Linked DNA regions of Homo sapiens: region 2 is linked to region 1. Evidence: fine-mapped expression QTL. A gene starts in region 1. The other region holds a variant in brackets. All regions are shown on one strand. Distances are between the middles of the regions. Region 1 holds the start of EIF3B (eukaryotic translation initiation factor 3 subunit B). Region 2 has its middle 20 kb from the start of CHST12.

Evidence for each region. PIP is the estimated chance that this variant, and not a neighbour inherited with it, causes the effect.
Region 2: its variant is the best candidate, but not a certain one, in a credible set for the expression of EIF3B in lymphoblastoid cells after a statin (CAP, PIP 0.79).

Annotation. Positions count from the first base shown.
Region 1 is chr7:2,352,407-2,356,406 of GRCh38, forward strand. It overlaps EIF3B (eukaryotic translation initiation factor 3 subunit B), which reads left to right and starts at 2,421. Exons shown (of 19, transcript NM_001037283.2): 1 at 2,421-3,014. The coding sequence starts at 2,516. It also overlaps a transcript of SNX8 not described here. RefSeq lists enhancers at 1,212-1,767, 1,438-1,507 and silencers at 2,308-2,447, 2,628-2,717, 2,768-2,877.
Region 2 is chr7:2,381,518-2,386,030 of GRCh38, forward strand. It overlaps the pseudogene KIF19BP. Among named protein-coding and RNA genes, the nearest start is that of CHST12, 20 kb to the right of the region's middle. The variant C/G (reference allele first, on the strand shown) is at 2,734.

The DNA of each region.
Region 1 (4,000 bases):
GACAGAGAGAGACACAGACACACCACCAGACACCACATCCACATAACTTTTATGACAATATATTGTTATAATTGTTCTATTAGTTATTGCTGTTAATCTCTTACTGTGCCCTATTGTAAGCATGCATATGTAGAAAAAACATACTCCCAGGCGTATTGGCTCACACCTGTAATCCCAGCACTTTGGGAGGCCGAGGCAGGCGGATCACAAGGTCAGGAGATCGAGACCATCCTGGCTAATACGGTGAAACCTCGTCTCTACTAAAAAAATACAAAAAAAATCAGCCAGGCGTGGTGGCGGGCACCTGTATTCCCAGCTACTTGGGAGGCTGAGGCAAGAGAATGGCGTGAACCCGGGAGGTGGAGCTTGCAGTGAGCCGAGATCGTGCCACTGCACTCCAGCCTAGGCGACAGAGCAACACTCCGTCTAAATAAAAAAAAAAAAAATTGTCATCCCTTATTGTACAGATGCGGAAACTGAGGTGGAGGCATTAAGTGACCTGCCCAAAGATACACCACTGACAGCATGATGAGGAGTAGTCAAACCTGGTACTAGGCATGGGAAGACTCTGCTTCTTTTTCGCTCTTTTAAACACCGTTAGGATGGGATGGGTGTGGTGGCTCATGCCTATAGTCCCGGCACTTTGGGAAGCTGAGGGAGGAAGACTGCTTGAGGCCAGGAGTTTGAGACCAGCCTGGGCAACACAGTGAGATGCTATCTACAAATAAAGAAATTAGCTGGGCACGGTGGCACATACCTTCAGTCCCAAGTACTTGGCAATGTACTTAATGTCACTGAACTGTACACTAAATTGCATATTAAAATGGCTAGGCCCTGCGCGGTGGTTCACGCTTGTAATCCTGGCACTTTGGGAGGCTGAGGTGGGAGGATTCTCTTGAGGCTGGAAGGTCCCGATTGCAGCGGCGCTGTGATTATGCCACCGCACTCTAGCCTGGGCAACAGAGCGAGACCCTATCTCTGAAAACAAACAAAACAAAAAAACTATAGGATGAAATATACATAAAATTTACCTTTTTGGCATTTTATTTTATTTTTTCGAAGACAGGGTCTCGCTATGTTGCCCTGACTGGTCTTGAACTCTTGGGCTCAAGTGATCCTCCTGTCTTGGCCTCCCAAAGTACTGGGAAGAGAGGTGTGAGCCACCGCGCAGGGCCTAGCCATTTTAATATGAAGTTTAGTATACAGTTCAGTGGCATCAAGTACATTCACCATGTTGTACCATCACCACCGTCATCTCCAAAACGTTCTCATCCTCCCAAATTGAAGGTCCGTCCCCGATAAACACTCCCCACTCTCCACCCCAGCCTCTGGGTACCACCTGTTTTATTTATTTATTTAATTTTCGTAGAGATGAGGGCTGGCGTGCGGGGGGTGGTGGTGCTATGTTGGCAAGGCTGGTCTCCAACTCCTAAGCTCAAGCGATCTTCCCACCTCAGCCTCCCAAAGTGCTGGGATAACAGGCGTGATCCACTGGGTTGTTTTCTAGGATGATTAAGACATCCCCCAACCAGTGGTTGTCCTCCACTCCGGCAAAAAACAAGATAGAAGCCACATGCACCCAATGCCCGTCCCGTGAGCACCCGCGCAGAGCGAACCGCTCCGGTCCCTCCGGAGTCAGCCTCGAGCTCCACGCGGCGAGGACCCGCCCCCGCCCCCACGTGACCCGCGCTGTCCCGCGCTGAAGGCGGCGGCCTCGGATGGACTGAACCACTGTGAAAGCCCGAATGGGGGGAAACAGGCAGTGACGGCCGCTAGGGAAGGACTGGGGGTAAGCGATTAAAGAAACTTCCATACATTTTTGTATCGCGCCAGGCAGTCGTCCTTCTAGTCGTGTGGGCCCTCTCTGGCTCGCCCCGAATTCCTTTTCTATTTTGAAGTAGTCTGTCCTTTTGCTCAGTCAGTAGGCGAGTCCAAGTGACAGACACGGACAGGGGGGACTTTAGTAACGTAAACTAAACGGTTTCCCTAGCGAAAGGCTCAGACGCCCTGAGCAATCGCCTGTTGAGTCTCCACTCTTCCAGGGTATTAACTGTTGAGTTAGAGGACATTTTCCTAGCATTCCGGGTACTAAAATCATTTCTTGTCCCCGCCTTCAGCTCCACAAATAGTTCAGTCCCGCCCCGCAGCGTCCGACGGGAAAGGAAAGGGGGAGGACGCCATGTTGGACGGAACCATCTGCTGCCACACATGGGGTGGTCAATGCTCCCATGAGTTTACTGATGCACAGAAACAACCTTGCTGAATGGAATTAAGCACTTTCTTGTCACAAATATATCAGTTTGATGATTTTCGGGCGCGGTCTTGTGGATGCGAGTCCTCTCAGGGTCGTTCGTGAGGCCCCAGGGCGTGGGTGCGCCCCCCGCCCCGCGGCCTTGGTGCGGCCTCCCCGTCGCACGCACATGGCTGGGCTGTAGCCGTCGCGGCGCGCGGTGCGGCCTGGGAGAGTCGGAAGCGCGGCGGCCGCGGAGCCCTGCGAGTAGGCAGCGTTGGGCCCATGCAGGACGCGGAGAACGTGGCGGTGCCCGAGGCGGCCGAGGAGCGCGCCGAGCCCGGCCAGCAGCAGCCGGCCGCCGAGCCGCCGCCAGCCGAGGGGCTGCTGCGGCCCGCGGGGCCCGGCGCTCCGGAGGCCGCGGGGACCGAGGCCTCCAGTGAGGAGGTGGGGATCGCGGAGGCCGGGCCGGAGTCCGAGGTGAGGACCGAGCCGGCGGCCGAGGCAGAGGCGGCCTCCGGCCCGTCCGAGTCGCCCTCGCCGCCGGCCGCCGAGGAGCTGCCCGGGTCGCATGCTGAGCCCCCTGTCCCGGCACAGGGCGAGGCCCCAGGAGAGCAGGCTCGGGACGAGCGCTCCGACAGCCGGGCCCAGGCGGTGTCCGAGGACGCGGGAGGAAACGAGGGCAGAGCGGCCGAGGCCGAACCCCGGGCGCTGGAGAACGGCGACGCGGACGAGCCCTCCTTCAGCGACCCCGAGGACTTCGTGGACGACGTGAGCGAGGAAGGTGAGGGCGCCCGGGGCGGGGCTGGCGAGCGGCGCGGGAGCGTGGCTGGGGTTCCCGAGGTGGGAGATATCGTCGGGCTGTGCCACCGGTTCGTGCAGAAGTTCCAGCGAGGGTGTCCGTGTGTTCCTGAGAAGCCACCGAGGGAGGGGTTCCCGAGTGCCCTGGAAGTGTTCTGAGAGCCCAGCGCCTCCCCTTTTCTTTCCTGAAAAAGGGGACAGGGTGGAGCTCACTTCGGGAGCCAGGCATTTGCATGACAACCAGAAATCTGAGAGGGTGGGAGAGGGCACATGGGGTACTCCGTTATGGCTGGGTGTGCTGTGAGTGTAGCAGCTGGGGGTACGGCAAAAACCGAAGACCCGGTGGCAGGTTTGCGGGTCTACGTGTCCCCAGAGCTGACCAGTCAGACCTCCCAAGGTCTGGATCGGAGGAACAGCTTGTGGCAGAGCCGGTGATTTTGTCCTCCTGCCCCTCAGAATTGTCCATCTCCAGAGACTTCCTTAGTGGGACAGGCACCCTGTGAAATTCCAGTTTGATTTTTCTTTATCTCTTGCGCTAAATCTATAAAGAGAGTTATTTTTCCAGGTTTTAATATTGCCGATAACAGCCAGCTTTGCCTTCATCTCAACCTTGATTGGATTTACAGGCATATTTTTGCTTCCTGTCTCAGAGATTTTTTCCTGAAGCTACTTCTGATGAGAGCTGGTCTCATTTGTTTTTCTTTTGTTTTTTAGCTCTCTTAAGCCTTTAAGTTGGGAACACATCAGCCTCTGCAGATTGGCTAAGTTGATACTAGAGTGAGAAAAATAAAAATACCCTTGCTGATGTAGCCAGCGATACACCAGGACAATTTCGGGAATAACATGGAGTTGCCAATTTATGATTTAAACGTATTTTTAAAAGGCTATCAGAGGGCCGGGCTGGGTGGCTCACGCCTGTAATCCCAGCACTTTGGGAGGCCGAGACGGGTGGATCACGAGGTCACCATC
Region 2 (4,513 bases), 29 kb after region 1:
ACGTTTGGAGACTGGGAGGGGCTGTAATTCACAGGGCAGAGGACCCGGGCTCCTGCCACCCTGGAGGAGTGGCCTAGAGCCTCAGGTCACACTGGGTCTCCCAGGTGTGAGGAGGGCGCCTTGGTGCGTTTGCTTTTTTGGGAGCCCTACATTTCTCTCATCTGCGATTCTACAGTTCTAGAATTGTCGCAGTCCTGCCGTTCATCCTGTGTCCCTCCAGTGCACATTTTATTAGTAATTCTTGTTTATACTCTTGCTGCTTAAATTCTAGTGTGCCGAGAAAGTTTTTCTGATTTCATCGAAAGAAGAAAGGCACACAGTTCTACCATATGACAGATTTTTAACAGATATTCTAAAAAAAATTAACTTTCCACTGTTTTAAATGTACTAGTTGTCATTGTTTCATATAATTCGTAAAGGATTTCTGAAGCCCTTGCGTTGGTTTTAACTTTGCTACGGTAGACATGGATCTCCCAGAGCCGGCCTGCTGTGGAGGGACTTCCTGGGTATCAGGGTCCCCACGGCTGGCGGGCTCAGGACATCGGGGGGGGGGGGTGTTTGGGACCCCTGCTGCAGGCATGGCCTTGGTTGTGTTTCAGGAGGCTGAGGCAGGCAAGAACGCGGGGACTTGTAAACGTGTTCCCGGCAAGTGCCGTGGTCAGACGCTGGAGCCTCATCCTCCTAGAGGACAGGGATGTGGTTGTTGGAGGGGTAGCCGAATCCACCTGGCTGGGGTTTCCTGCTGCACAGTGTTGACCCGGATGCCAAGAAAGAGATGGATGTGGCCAAAAACATGCCCTGGCCTTGCACAGCTGAGCTGCCAGGCAGTCGGCTTATGGGAAAGGCATGGTGGCTCTTGGGAGGGCTTGAGTCGCCCACTCTGGCGGGAATGGACCCCCGGGCCCTTTCAGCTCCGTGGTTGGCATCATGAAGTTGGACTTGGCCAGGCTTGAACAGCTTGGATCCGATTTTAATGTGATTTCTTTACTTTTTTTTTTTTTTTTTTTTTCTGTCAAGACAAGGTCTTGCTCTGTTGCCCAGGCTGGAGTGCAATGGCGTGATCTCGGCTCACTGCAACCTCCACCTCCCGGGTTCAAGCAATTCTGCCTCAGCCTCCCGAGTAGCTGGGATTACAGGCGTGTGCCACGCCCGGCCTGGCTTTGGCGTGATCTCTGTCAGTGCAGGAGCGGGTTTCTGTGCTTGGCACCGACCCTGGCTCTGGGCAGTGTCGTCCTGCACTCTGGTTAGCTCAGCCTGGACGGGTCAGGTGACCTTGGGGAGCAGGTTCACGGTGCGGTGCCTTTCCCCGGGCTTGCAGTGGAAAAGGAGCACAGCCTTTAGGTGTTGAATACACCTGAGAGCCAATCAAGCGCTTACTGGGAAAGGGGAGGAGACGTGGTCGCGGGCCGGGCGCGGGTGGCTCACGCCTGTAATCCCAGCACTTTGGGAGGCCAAGGCGGGCAGATCACCTGAGGTCAGGAGTTCGAGACCAGCCTGGCCAACATGGTGAAACCCCATCTCTACTAAAAATACAAAAATGAGCCACAAAATTGTGGCAGGTGCCTGTAATCCCAGCTACTCGGGAGGCTGAGGCAGGAGAATTGCTTGAACCCAGGAAGCAGAGGTTGCAGTGAGCCAAGATTGTACCACTGCACTCCGGCCTGGGTGACAAGAAAAAAAAAAAGAAACATAGTCGCCGTTGGAAACGGCAGTTGCAGTCGAAGTTGCTCAAGTTGCTGTGTGAAGTTTCAGCTGCTGCCATTTGTCTGCTTCAAGGGAAAAGCTCCAGGGCCATCCTGGTTTCTGTGTGAGGGGCCCTGAGGTGGGCAGCGCCTCTCCTGGGCTCAAGGTGGTAGAGGGACCCACCCTGCAAAGAAGAGGGGCAGCCCCTCCACCTGTGTCCTGGTGGGTGTCAGGCTGGCTCATGTGCACCGGGTGAGGCACATGGAAACCGGGGGTTGCCATAGTGAGGGTGGAGATAGAGGCTGCTGTAGCGTCTGGCGCTGTCCCTGTGTGCCAAGGTGATCGAGAGGGCCACCCTGCTCCTTGAGGCCCCAACCACATGAGTGGTGCCAGCCCGGCTCCCCAAGGCCCAGCTGATGTCACCTAGGCAGAGCAGAGCGGGGCTGAGCGCAGGCAGGTCTCATCTCTGCTGTGATAGGGAGCGCATCCCGCTGCCCATACCCTCCTGCCAGGCTGCAGGTCCCTCCCCGGCCCGGGGCAGCCCGGCGTTGAGAGATGGAGCCCAAAGACCAGCCACTAATGGTGAGCGCCCTCCCTCGTGTTCCCGCCCCCCCAGTCTGCGAGTGCCCGACGCCGCCTCCCAAGCCTGCAACCCCGGCGACCCCTCTGCTCTGTTATCAGCCCGGTCTACTCCCCAACTTTCCCTCGCTGGGAGCTAGCTGCCCCGCTCTTCCCCACTGCCTCCGCACCCCCGCCTTGAGCCTCCAGACACCCTCTCCACCCCTAATCCCCATGCTGCTGGCACCTGGGTGTGCGGGCTCTGGGCTCCCCAGCCCCCTCCCTGGGCCCAATCCAGGCCATCTGCTGGGGGACTCAGAGCCTCCGCCAACTGGACAGCGGTGAGCTGAGCTGGGGACTTGCCCCAGGGCTGTAGCTGGGTAAAAAGAGATGCCAGTCATGACTGTCCCTCAGCCACAGCTGCTGTTTCTACCAAAAAATGTGTCCCTTTTATAGAGGGGGAAACAAGCGTCCTGGGGCCACAGTTACTAT[C/G]CAGCTGGGTGGGTTTGAGGCCGGGATCTGGCCCTCAGAATAGGGAGTGGGGATGGCAAGGCCCCCAGTTTCCCCTTGGGGAAGTTTCCCATGAAGGAGCTCAGCATCTCTTCTGGAGGTGGCAGGACTGGGAGGCAAGGCCTTGGGCAGGCGCTCCCTGCTGTGTGCCTCAACCTCCCCATCTCCTCAGTGAGGGAGGCCATGTCTTGTTGGGGGCACGGGCAGCCCCGTGGGAGTGAAGTCAGAGCCCACCCTGAGGGGCACGGGGCTGAGCTGCTGCCTTCACCTCTTCACAGAGACTGAGCAGATCCCAGAGCAGCCGCCCTGGTGACTGCCTGCAGGTGGCACTTCGAATCCACCCGCTCAATGACGCAGAACTGAAGGAGGGAGCCGCGGTCATCGCCCACAAAGTGGGGGACCAGGTGAGGCTGGGGCTCAGGGGGCTCCCTGCTGTCACAAGCTCACAGATGGGGCTCTGTCCTGGAGGTGTGGCTAAGACTGACACCATGCCCACCCCACTGGGCCCAGTTTCTAGTCAGGGTTCGGGGCACACAAAGGGAGAGATGAGTGCCACCAGGAGAATACAGCAGAGCCCGTGGGGGTGGGCAAAGTCAGGGCAGGGGAGCAGGCTGGAGCCCCCCAGCAGGAGCATGTGGCAGGGCCACAGAGCAGGGAGGGGGCTGGGAGGAGGGCAGAGCCTTCAGCAGGCCTGGCTCTGAAATTGTGTGGCTGGAAAGGGCCTGGGTGGCTGCAGCTCAGCAGGGAAGGGCGCCAGCATGCTGTCCAGCACGGGGATCTCTGCCACTTTGAAGCAGGCTCAGAAGCCAAGCTGTTGCCACAGGTTAGGGATGTCTATGGCCTCGGTGGTCACTCATAAGAAGAAATGCCCAGTGTGGGGTGGAACTCAGTGTCGCCAAGTGGATCAGGTTTTCCCGTTCGTCATTAGAGAGGCAGCTTCATAAGGAAGGAGACATGGCCCCTGGGAGTCATGTGCACTCAGGGGCAGGGGACCCTGGGTGTGTCAGAGGGAGCTCCCCGCTGGGCAGGGGGGCACCAGTCCTGGTCCCAGGTCAGGAGGCTCAGGGCATCGTCTGCAAGAAGATGAAATGGACGGCCGGGCGCGGTGGCTCACGCCTGTAATCCCAGCACTTTGGGAGGCCGAGGCGGGCGGATCACGAGGTCAGGAGATCGAGACCATCCTGGCTAACACGGTGAAACCCCGTCTCTACTAAAAATACAAAAAATTAGCCGGGCGAGGTGGCGGGCGCCTGTAGTCCCAGCTACTCGGGAGGCTGAGGCAGGAGAATGGCGTGAACCCCAGGGGGCGGAGCCTGCAGTGAGCCGAGATTGCGCCACTGCACTCCAGCCTGGGCGACAGCGAGACTCCGTCTCAAAAAAAAAAATAAAATAAAATAAAAAAAAAAAAGAAGATGAAATGGACCAGGCGCGGTGGCTCATGCCTGTAATCCCAGCACTTTGGGAGGCTGAGGTGGGTGGATCACGAGGTCAGGAGATCGAGACCATCCTGGCTAACACGGTGAAACCCCGTCTCTACTAAAAATAAAAAAGATTGGGTGGGCATGGTGGCAGGTGCCTGTAGTCTCAGCTACTCAGGAGGCTGAGGCAGGAGAATGGCATGAACCCGGGAGATGGAGCTTGCAGTGAGCCGAGATTGCGCCGCTGCACTCCAGCCTGGGTGACAGAGCGAGACTCCGTCTCAAAAAAAAAAAAAAAAAAAAGAACAACAAAAAAAAAGAAGATGAAATGGACAGAAGATCAG